Linked DNA regions of Homo sapiens: region 1 is linked to region 2. Evidence: fine-mapped expression QTL. Tissue or cell type: whole blood. Region 2 holds a variant in brackets; the other region holds the start of a gene. All regions are shown on one strand. Distances are from middle to middle. Region 1 holds the start of PSTPIP1 (proline-serine-threonine phosphatase interacting protein 1). Region 2 overlaps TSPAN3 (tetraspanin 3).

Region 1 (5,373 bases), 66 kb after region 2:
GCTGAGCATCAGGAAGAGGTATTAGAATCCAGAGCCCTGGGGCAGGTGATGCCTACAGTGACCTTTCGGGGCATCGGCCCAGACTCAGTGTGAGAGGTTCCCACTGGCTACTTCTCTCCCCTTCCTGCTCTGGCCTTCCCTAGGGAAACTATATGCCCGCCCCAGGCTCAGGGAGCCAGACACAGAGGAGACAAGGCACTTGGAGGCCAGGAAGCCCAGAGGTGCGACGAGCACAGAGTGTGGGCAGGATGCCGCTCAGGAAGCTCCACAGGGGCTGGCTGCTTGCTTCTGCTGCGGCTGCCATACCCTGCTCCCTTATACGCCACCCCTACCTGTGCCCAGATCCTGCCATGGAGGCTGCTCCTTGCCCAGCTCTGCCCTAGGGAAGGCAGGCCCAGGGGCTCTAGGACTGGACAGAGGTCTCAGTGATAAAATAGTCAAGGGGTCCTGGCCTGCCCTGGGCTACAGAGTGGCCTGGGTTTCCAGGCCCTACCCCTTCCCCCAACTTTGCACACCAAGGCAGGGCAGCTAGGTGGTGACTCACATCCCCCATCCCCCAGGGCTCCAGCTGCCAGCCTGGGCCCTGAGCATCCTGGTGCCTGGTCCTCCGGATGGGCTGAGGCAGCTCTGCCTCCATTGGCTTCTCTGGGCTGGGCCCACCCTGTCTTTGTAGAGATGGGGAAACTGAGGCCCAGAAAGGCACAAGGTGCCCTCCCCACGTGGGGTCCTTTGCCTACTGTACAGTCAGAGCAGAGGAAGCAGAACACTCACACGCTGGCCACAGGCCCCAAGTGGAGCCGGCCGGAAGGGAAGGAAGGCCTGGCTCCATAGCTCTCATCCTCCTGGCTGCAGCCCCAGGAAAAGGCCCGGGGAGGGCAGGGCTGTTGGCTGGGGCTCAGCCGGCTGAGCCGAGGGCCAGAGCGTCCTCTTCGGGGTTGGAGGCAGCACCCCGGGACAGCCACATTCCCCAGCTCCAACCAGAGAGGTCTCAGTTTTTCCCCAGAGCCCTGGGCACAGCCAGAGCTGAGGGGCAGAGGGGTAGTTGAAGGACAGCTGGAAAAGTGCTGAGATGACCAGGGGTCCAAGCTGGGCTGCAGGCTACGTGGCCCGGGCCAAGCCACTTTACCTCTACCACTGGCTGGGCGCCCTTATTTCATGGGGGAAATGACTTGATTTAAGCCCGTGTTGAATTTAAGAAAGTAAGCAAGCCATTGCCCACCTGGCTGCCTCCTTGAAGGACCCCTAAGGTCTGCAAGGGACAAGGGGCTGGGTGAGGGGAACAGAATTACCATTTGGAGTGAGGCAAGGTGCTGGGGGCTTTAGTGCCTTGGATCCCCTTGCTGATCCAATGCTTTAGTTGGTGTGTTGATTTCTATTTTATCACCATTATATAGATGGAGAGACTGAGGCTTGGAGACAGAAATGACTTGCCCAGCCTGTAACAGAGCCAAGACCTGAACTCAAGTTTGTCTGGTCTCTAAATCTGTGACCCCTCCTTTGCTGCCCCACACATCCTCCTCAAGCCCCCACCCATGTGTTACCCTCTTCTGAGGAGCTCCTGCTGTGGGGAGAGGTCTCCCAGAGGAGAAAACACACGGGGCAGCAGAGAGGAGGACGCTCATTCACGGAGTCCACTTGCGTTCCAGTCCAGAAGGGGTGGGGGCCTGGGCCACCTCCATGACAATTAAGACCAAGAATCAACCACTATTTTATGAGAAAGCTCCCCTCTCGGAGCCGCATCCCATCACCTGCATGGAGATTTCAGCCTAGCTCTGCCCCCTCCACTTGTTCAGTGCCCCCAACCATCCTCACTCACCCAAAAGGCATCTTTGAACTGCAGCTGGGGCATCATCCTCAGGCGTCTGCCGCGGCAAAGCTCACTCTCCTGCCACAGGCTGGCCTGATGGAGGGCCAGGCGCCAGCAGCAGCGTCCCAGTCCTGGCAGGGCTGGCCCAGGCCCCCCTTCCCGGCCGGCGCCGTCTGCAACACTCAGAAGGCAGCCACGAGCCAGAGAGGAGCTTCTGAGGGGAGGAAAAAGCTCAACCTGTTTTGTTTGGGGCTAGAATCAGCAGCAAAATGAGGAAGGAGTGGAGCTCAGTGATGGGAGGGCGGGCCCTGGTGTCCAGCCCAGCCCCTCACCGACCCTGCGGTGATGGAGGACACAGTCTGGGACCCAGGGCAGGGAGCAGGGATGCCAGCCCTGGGTGGGAGGCAGTGGCCAGTGGAAGAGGCAGGCTGGAGCTCGGGCCGGGCCAGGCAGGCAGGCAGGCAGGCAGCCCGAGGCCTGCGCAGGAAGGTTTGTGCAACCTCCCCCGGGGCAGGCACAGGGCCCTCGCCCACAGGAAGTGGAGTTGCTGTGCTCCCCTGTGCAGCCCCGCCTGCCACCTGCCATCCTGCTCCTGCCTCTGCTTGCCCCCTCCCGAGGTGCGGGCTCACTTTATTCCAGAGGCCATATGCTAAGGGAGCTTGAGGCCCACTGACAGTGTGGCCAGGAGGGGCCCAGGAACCCCAGGTGTGTCACCCGCCAGCCAGTCCAGCACCCTTCCAGGCTGGGCCCAGAGATGCCAGACTCCCCACCCCGCACTAGCAAGTCATTCTGGAGGGGCTTACCCAGGTCTAGGGCATCTGTCATTCATCAAACCCTGGCTGCTCTGGGACCCAAACCAGGTCCTGCCCTCAAGGAGCCCATAGTCTGGGAGCAGACACAGCTGTGCTCTGGGGGGCTGTGAGCACACAGAGGCAAGGTGAGCAGGCAGCAAGATGAGGGAGAACAGCCTGAGGCCCCGGCACTGCCCCCACCACCACCACCGCCACCACCGCAAGTCTCCAGATTAGACGCTGTTTGGGGCAGAGAACCCCCTTCTGAAGATGGAGGCTTCCGGCTCAGTGAATGGGAATGGATGGAGAGAGAAACAGGATTATCAAGGCACAGAGTGGGGTGTTTGGAAACCCAGTCTGAGGCCCAGTTTTTGTTTAATTTTGACCCCACCTTTCAGGGGCTGAGGGACCTTAATAGACCCCCCAACTCGCTGAGCCTCAGCTTCCTCATCTGCCACACCCAGTCTTTGGAAAGTAGACGGTGTCGAGAATATTTCTGGAATTTCCAGTTTGGTGGGCAGGTGCTGGGGGCACTGTGTGGTACCACCTTAGGAAGAGCCCTGGACTAGAGCCCCAGCCCCAGCCCTGAGACGCCACGCCCTGCCGGCTCAGCAGAAGATGCAGCAGGAAGTCCTGAGCCCAGGGCAGGCTGGCAAAATGGGGTGAGTCAGGGATTGTCCGCAAATCACCACCCTCACTGATGTCTGCCTTACAGCTGACGGGGTGATAAGATGAGAGCTGCTGCAGATGAAATAGTTGAGCTCCCAAGTGCCCATTATGCATGCCCAGGGTTTAGAGAGAGGGGGCACACCCAGGCTCTGAAATAGCCACCCAAGAGGAAACACTTTGGGGAGGATTGCAGAGCAATGGGACTGCCCCCAGAAGGCCCTCACCTCCAGAAACCTTGGATTTGAGCTAATCTTTAATCTGTAAGGCGCCCCAGTCAGGTTTTTTGTTACTTGCAGCTGAAGACAATTAATAGTGTAAAAATCCCCTTGAACTTTGTAGGCCATAGAGTGAGCCAGGCTGCACCTCACCTCCCAATGGCACCACCACCTCTGATAGCACTGGCTCAGCCTCCCTGAGCTCAGTTTCTCCATCCATCAGATGGGATGATGCCTCTAGGTCTGGAGCAGACTAGAGACCCTCTGTTAACAGAAGGCTCCTGCCTGCTTATTGGCAGAAATTTTTACAGCTGGGCTCCCTGCCCTGCCTCTCTAGGTGTCCTTCCCATCACCTCCCAGAGACTTCTGCTCCAGCCAGGCCTCTTCCCTCTCCCTGGAGGCACCTTTCCCACTCCCACCTGCTCTGTTCCCAGCCTCCCTTCTGGCAAGCCTTCCTTGATCTTCCTTACCTGGGCAAATCCTCCCACCCTCAAAGCCAACCTCAAGGCTCCCACACATGAGGCCTTCCTTTCCCAACTGTACCTGTCCAGCCAGGGCAGCCCCGGATGGAGGGCCATGCTGGTGACGGGCTGGAGCAACTGGGGAAGGAAGTAATGTGAGGAACCTCTGGAGAGACTCTGCAATTCTCTACTAGAGAGGCCTTCCTCCTCCCCTCCCTTCCACCCTTACCTGTTGCAGGTCCCCAGGCTGGGCGACCAGACAGCCAATTCGGCTTTGGAGTACTTACCCAGCACCGGGTACATCATTCTGCTTTTCACACGGACCACCTCAGTTACACTGTCATTATCCCCACTTTACAGAGGGGCAAACTAGTGATTAAAGAGTGTAAGTAACGCACCCAAGTAGCAGGCAATAAGCAGAAGGCTGGGCTTTGGTCCTAGATCTGTCCGAAGCCAAAGCACACGCTCTTAACTTCCACAGTTGTCTTTTACTAACAGCCCTCTATTCAAAAAGCGTTTCATTGTTCCTTTCTCCAGTTCTACCTCGAGACCCTCTCACCCAAGTCAATAAAAGGAAAAACAATCTAGGGAAGCCACCGGGGCTGATGGTGCCATAGGAATGAGAGGCCAGCCTTTAGCACATGCTATTCTGCATCACTGTGTTATTCGCATCAGTTGAGGATGCTTTTGGCTGCAAAGAACATAAACCAGAGGGTCTGACACAGAGGACGTGTGCTGTCATCTACACAACGGGGCTGGAGGCAGGGCAGCCTCCAGCTGTGGTACATGAGGGCTTCAGCTCAGTCTCTCTGAGTTTCTCTTGCATTTACGATCTTCCTCCTTGGGCTGGAGGCCAAGGAGCTGCAGCAGCTCATCTACAACTCCAGACACAGCCACAAGCAGAGAAAGAAAAGGACACCTGCCCTTGTGTCTCATTTTCTCCAAAGCCCCTGCACCCTCCCTTCTGCCCAGCTCCCCAGGAGACCTTCCCTTGTGTCTCCTTGGCCCTAGGTGGGTCACGTGCTCATACTTCCCCATGGTTGGCCTTGCGAATGGGCAGCCGGGGATGCCGAAAGCCAACCACGTGACCACCACAACCTTCTCCTCAGCCCAGGCACACAAGCACTGCTGAGCACCAACTCCTGCAGGGTCCTGCTGGGACCGGGGCCTCAAGGGGAGGCAGACTTGGTTTTTGCTCTGAGGGGCCTAGAGACTGACAGACAGGTTCTAGGGAGTTCTTTCTCCATAAGGAGTGGCTCAGAGCGGGTGAGACCAGAAGAAGATATTGTGATGACTTTTACAGGAATGAGGTCTGGTTGGGGCAGGTGCGATGGGGCTTGAGTGGATTGGTGGGATGTCAGGGAGATGGAGGAGCAAGACTGAGATGTCTGAGTGCCCCTCAGAAAAGAGTACTGTCTTAGGGGGCCCCT
Region 2 (5,331 bases):
TCAGAAAACATGTACAGGATGAGTCAAAGCCACACAGACCTGAGAAAAGTGGTAAGTGGGAGAGATTGGCAGAGGTGCCTAAAATATTTAGGATGGAAGAGGTGTCTGTTTTTGGTTGGTTAAGGACACATCCAGGAATGAATTCATTGGTGAGAGAACATTAAAGCCTCAATTTCAGACATAATTTTAACTATTATTCTAATTATGCAAGTAATATATTTTAAAGAAGACACTAAAAGTATTTTAAAAAGCAAACTGGTATCACCCATAATTCTACCACCCAGAGACAACCAATATCAACATTTTGGTTTGTTTCCAATATGTGATATATGTGTTTTTTCCCCTATCACACCACAAGCATATTATTAAATGATGCTTTAAGAAAATATTTCAGGGCTGAATGCAGACACACCTCTGAATACCAGGGCTTTTTCATTTTCATTTTTGCAGCCACAATTTCATTACAACATCTCGATGAATTACCTTTTACACAAATCTGTGTTTCTGACTAACTTTCTAAAGGATAGATTCCTGGAAGTGGAATAAGTAGGTATAAAGGCATCAATGCTGAGGCAGATATGTATTGCCAGATTGTTTCCAAAAAAATGATTCTCTATTAGTTTGTGCTTCCGCCCATCTGAGGGCCCTTCTCTCTGCACCCTCACACATCTTTGAATACTCCTTAACTTTATTGCTGATCAGTTTGTTAGGTAGAAAATGATAGTATTTAATAGCTTCAGAAATTCTTGGTAAGAGTAGCTTTAATTTCTGAAAGAGGATTTGGAGTCTTTGGAATGGCCTTTTTTCCTTGAGAGTTGGTAGGAGAGTAAATGATATATTCAGGTAGTGGACTTACATAAGAAGTAGTTGTGTTTAGTGACGTAAACTGTTCTATCAGATTAAGTCAGAGGTGAAAGCATGGTTGAATTAGAGAATATACATTATGGCAAGTAGAATGCTAAACGATTTAAGATGATTTTAAGACACTTGTAATGGCATAAGGGTGAAGTTTGGGGAAGCTTTCAGAAATCCACTGTGTGGAATTACCAACGATTCTTCCCAGGAGAGAAAAGAGGTATATGAAAAATAATATGACAGTACAGGAAACTCTGGATTTAATGTTAAAAAGATATATGCATAAGATGGATTCCTGCCTATTTTTTCCCTCTGCTTTTAAAACCTGCTTTCTTACAAAGTCTAGAGTACAGCATTTTTTGCTCAGTCTTTTACTTCTTGACTTTTTTCCTTTCTCTCAACACTCCAGTCACTTCTACTTTACTAATTGATTCTTTGGCAAAAATCACTCCGAAGGGAGCAGTTCACACAGGCAAGCAAGAATTTGTCAGGCACTGTGCTTTTAGGTGAATAAAGTCCAGATGGTGCCTTGTCTTTACATTGTTTTGATTCTTGCCAGTTCTAGATGGGAATCATCATCAATGGCTACTACATACCACTGCAAGAAAATCACTTCTATTCTTTGCTTCAGCTTCGCCCAAAATGTCCTGTGGGATGCTTTCGCCTTTGTATTTCTAAATCTCCATGTAGGTATACTTTTGGCAACAGAGCTACTTTATCTCCCCACTTGTAGCAAATCTGTTTCATTTTTAATATTGCCACATTCCAATGGCAGGTTACACCGTGGTTGATGAAAAGGAATTTAATAGTTTTACAGATTTTAACTTTTTTTTTTTTAATTTTTTGAGACTGAGTTTTGCTCTTGTTGCCCAGGCTGGAGTGCAGTGGCGCAATCTCGGCTCACTGCAACCTCTGCCTTCCAGGTTCAAGCGATTCTCCTGCCTCAGCGTTTCTGAGTAGCTGGGATTACAGGCATGTGCCACCACGCCCGGCTAATTTTGTATTTTTAGTAGAGACGGGGTTTCTGCATGTTGGTCAGGCCGGTCTCGAATTCATGACCTCAGATGATCTGCCGGCCTTGGCCTCCCAAAGTGCTGGGATTACTGGTGTGAGCTACTGCGCCTGGCCCAGATTTTAACATTTTATCTACTTGTCTCTTTCATAGAATATTTGAAAATTACCCCCCCAAAAACTAGTTTCTAAGCTATGGAAAAAGCAATCTCATATAAGAATGAAATCTCTTTAAGATATTTCACATTTGTGCATATGTAGAGGAAGGGTAAAAGCATAAAATGAAGTATCATACTTTTGGAACTCATATACTTGCAAAATTTTATAACAAGATGGCTTTATTTTTTAGACAGCTTAGTGGAAAAGCACTGGCTCTCCTAAAGTTTTAAAATGTTGTGACTTAATTTAGAGTATAGGCTTATTAAAAGATAAAGAATAATGGTTTTTTAAAAATTATTCTTTCTGTAATTTCAGACCTCAGCCTTTTGCCTAAATTTCCTTTCACTTCTTTGTAAAAAGGATGAATATTTTTAGTACACTGTCCTGGCACAAATCCTCCTTACAGGCTCAGATTTTCTCAGTGGTGACTAAAGCAGTTCAGCTGCTTCCAAGTTCTACATTTCATCTCCTTTTCTGTTGCACCTCCCTCCTCCCCAGCCCCCTCCTTTGCAGCTGCTTTATTGGCAAAGCTCAGATCCTTTGATAGATCTCAATCCCATCATGGCCCTTCAAAAGAAGAATTTAAGCTCACCTTTTATATAGCTTTTCTGATAGCCACAATTTCTGCATTAAAAATCTGAGGGATGACAAAGTCCCTATGCATACTAGTTAGGAATTTCTTAGAACCTCTCTTCCATTTACTATACTGTTTCCCATGTTCTTTTGGGTGTTTTTCATATTGATGGTTGGATATCATTACAACAATTACTTTTGGCTGTTTTTAGGTCTTCAGCTGCTACTGGGATACCTCTTCTATATTTTCAAAGTAACCAGTGTCATTTCATAATTGTTTATTATACAGCTTAAGATATAAGCACCATATACAGATTTCAGTAAAAGCAAAATTTGAAGCTGTTTTCAATTTAGGAAACACATCGTCTATTTATAAGCAATTTGATGT[G/A]TATAGTTTCATATCAGCAATCCGTGCAGTTTTCTCTTTGGTGTGTGCAACTAGTAAGTTCCTTTAACTATATGTTGCCAAATAGAGCTTTGTTATGTTCTCATCTTGTTGTGTGACTTGGATGTTGACTGCAGCCTGGGAAAAAAAACTGTTGTAGAGTCTATCAGAAAAGAAGAGGCAGCTTTACAAATGGCATCTCCCCACAGCCCTCCATTGCATTTGTTGTGCATCTGGTTGTCTCTGTTGCTGGTTTTTCTGCTTTCTTGTAGTCTCAGTTTCAGATGAGTGCCTCTTTTAGGGGGGAGAGGCAGTGGCAGCAGAGGAAACATTTCCCTTGGCCCACCTCCAAGCAGCACTAAGTGTGAGTCTCATAGGAACCTCTTTAGATTGAAAACTCATCAATTTATATCTAAAATGCAAGTAGTTCTTCAGTGAACTGTGCTTCAGGTTGATTGTTAAGTACATATGGCCTCCAGTTTTCTCTTATTTTCATTCGAATTTACATAGGCTAAAGCTAGTGAAGTTTCAGTAGGTGTACCGAAAGCTCAGAAATGGAATTCATTTTAACTCAAGCCTTTTAAGAAATAAATACTGCCTTTTAGAGTAAAAAAAACCTACAACATTAAAGGATAGAGAAACGTCTAATAAAAACAAATGACAAAATTTGATTAATTTGCACTTCAGATTGCTTCTAATTTAGCGTGAGGACTGATACTATTTACTTTAGCAAAATGTGTGTGTGTACATGTGTGTGAATATATATCACACAAGTAGTCAATAAAAAGGGGTATTTGGGAAGAGTGTTAAGTAGTTGACATACTTCTGTAATAAATGCACCCAAATTAAAATTAAGCTATGTCTGGCCAGGCGCAATGGCTCACGCCTGTAATCCCAGCACTTTGGGAGGCCGAGGCGGGCGGATCACGAGGTCAGGACATCGAGACCATCCTGGCTAACACGGTGAAACCCCGTCTCCACTAAAAATACAAAAAATTAGCCAGGTGTAGTGGCGGGCGCCTGTAATCCCAGCTACTCGGGAGGCTGAGGCAGGAGAATGGCGTGAACCTGGGAGACGGAGCCTGCAGTGAGCTGAGATTGCGCCACTGCACTCCAGCCTGGGCGACTGAGTGAGACTCCGTCTCAAAAAATAAATAAAATAAAATAAAATTAAGATAAATTAAACTATTTCTCTTCTCCACTCCCCCCCACTTTTGTGCTCACCTTCATTCTCTAGTACCATGCCCCAAAAGCAAATATGTCAGTGAACTCTGAGAACCTTTGAACAGGCAGTTTGCTGTAAGTACAGTGTTTATATTTATGACATATTTACGATATATTAACATATTCCAGATGTAATGGCCATCAGAATTCAGCAAGCTGGATTCAGTTGCCAAATAATTGAATAGTGAACTAAAAGCTATAAGCATTGAACTGAAGAGAAACCAGATACAAACCAAATACAAATACAAACCAACGCAAATACAAACCAAAGCTTATGATAGAGTTGGGAGGGTGATTTCAAGGGAAAGGGGTGAGATGAGGTGTACTCAATAAACTTTAACTGATACCTGCTGTCTGCCAAGTACTGTTCTAGATGATACAAGGGTGAAGGACAGATGGGTACAATTCGTGCTCTCAAGGTGTGTTGAGACAGGTATAGCTATAATTGCAACCGTTTCGATAAATATTCTGTTAGAACCATGCACTGGGAGATGTTTGTGTCCACCAAGGGCAGCTAATCCAGCCTGAAATGGTCAAGAATGGCTTCCAAAAGGAAGAGGTAACATTTAAGCTTCATCTTAATGAGCGACAAGGAGTTCCCAGGCATTTGAAGAGAGCATTCTAGAGAGAACAGCGGAGGCAAAGAAGTGAGAGAATATGTGGTCCATTTGGGTATAACAGTTCTATATTGTTCATAGTTCACAAGGGGTAATGAGATCTGGGGCTGAAAAGGAGGAATAGCTTGGTTCATCGGGGACTCACTTGCCTCATCCTGATTTTAAGTAAGGCTATGGCTTGATCTGGTTTGTATTTTTAATAAATATAACCCTGGTAGTATAAAGAATGTATTAAGATGCAGGGAGAGTCAATAAGTAAGATTTAGGGGGATAAGATAAGGCCCAAATTAAGACAGAAGCACTGCAGTGGGGTTGAAGAGGAGTTGAGGTATTCGAATAATGTTTTGGAAGTAAAGTTGAAGTTTTGTGATTTATGGGTTATAGAGGTGGGGCAAGGAAAGTTAATCCTCAGATGTTTGACCAGAAAAATTAGATGTCTGGTACCTTTTGCTATGATAGGAATGTAAGGGAAGATTAGATGGGCTGGGCAGGAAGGCAGAAAGGGTT

Evidence for each region.
Region 1: PSTPIP1 starts here. The variant in region 2 is fine-mapped to the expression of PSTPIP1 in whole blood (TOPMed, PIP 0.97).

Annotation. Positions count from the first base shown.
Region 1 is chr15:76,992,053-76,997,425 of GRCh38, reverse strand. PSTPIP1 (proline-serine-threonine phosphatase interacting protein 1) reads right to left here and starts at 2,300. Exons shown (of 15, transcript NM_003978.5): 1 at 1,817-2,300. The coding sequence starts at 1,852. RefSeq lists a silencer at 2,116-2,305 and an enhancer at 2,546-2,595.
Region 2 is chr15:77,057,898-77,063,228 of GRCh38, reverse strand. The region is part of intron 1 of TSPAN3 (tetraspanin 3); the gene reads left to right. Among named protein-coding and RNA genes, the nearest start is that of TSPAN3, 11 kb to the left of the region's middle. The variant G/A (reference allele first, on the strand shown) is at 2,987.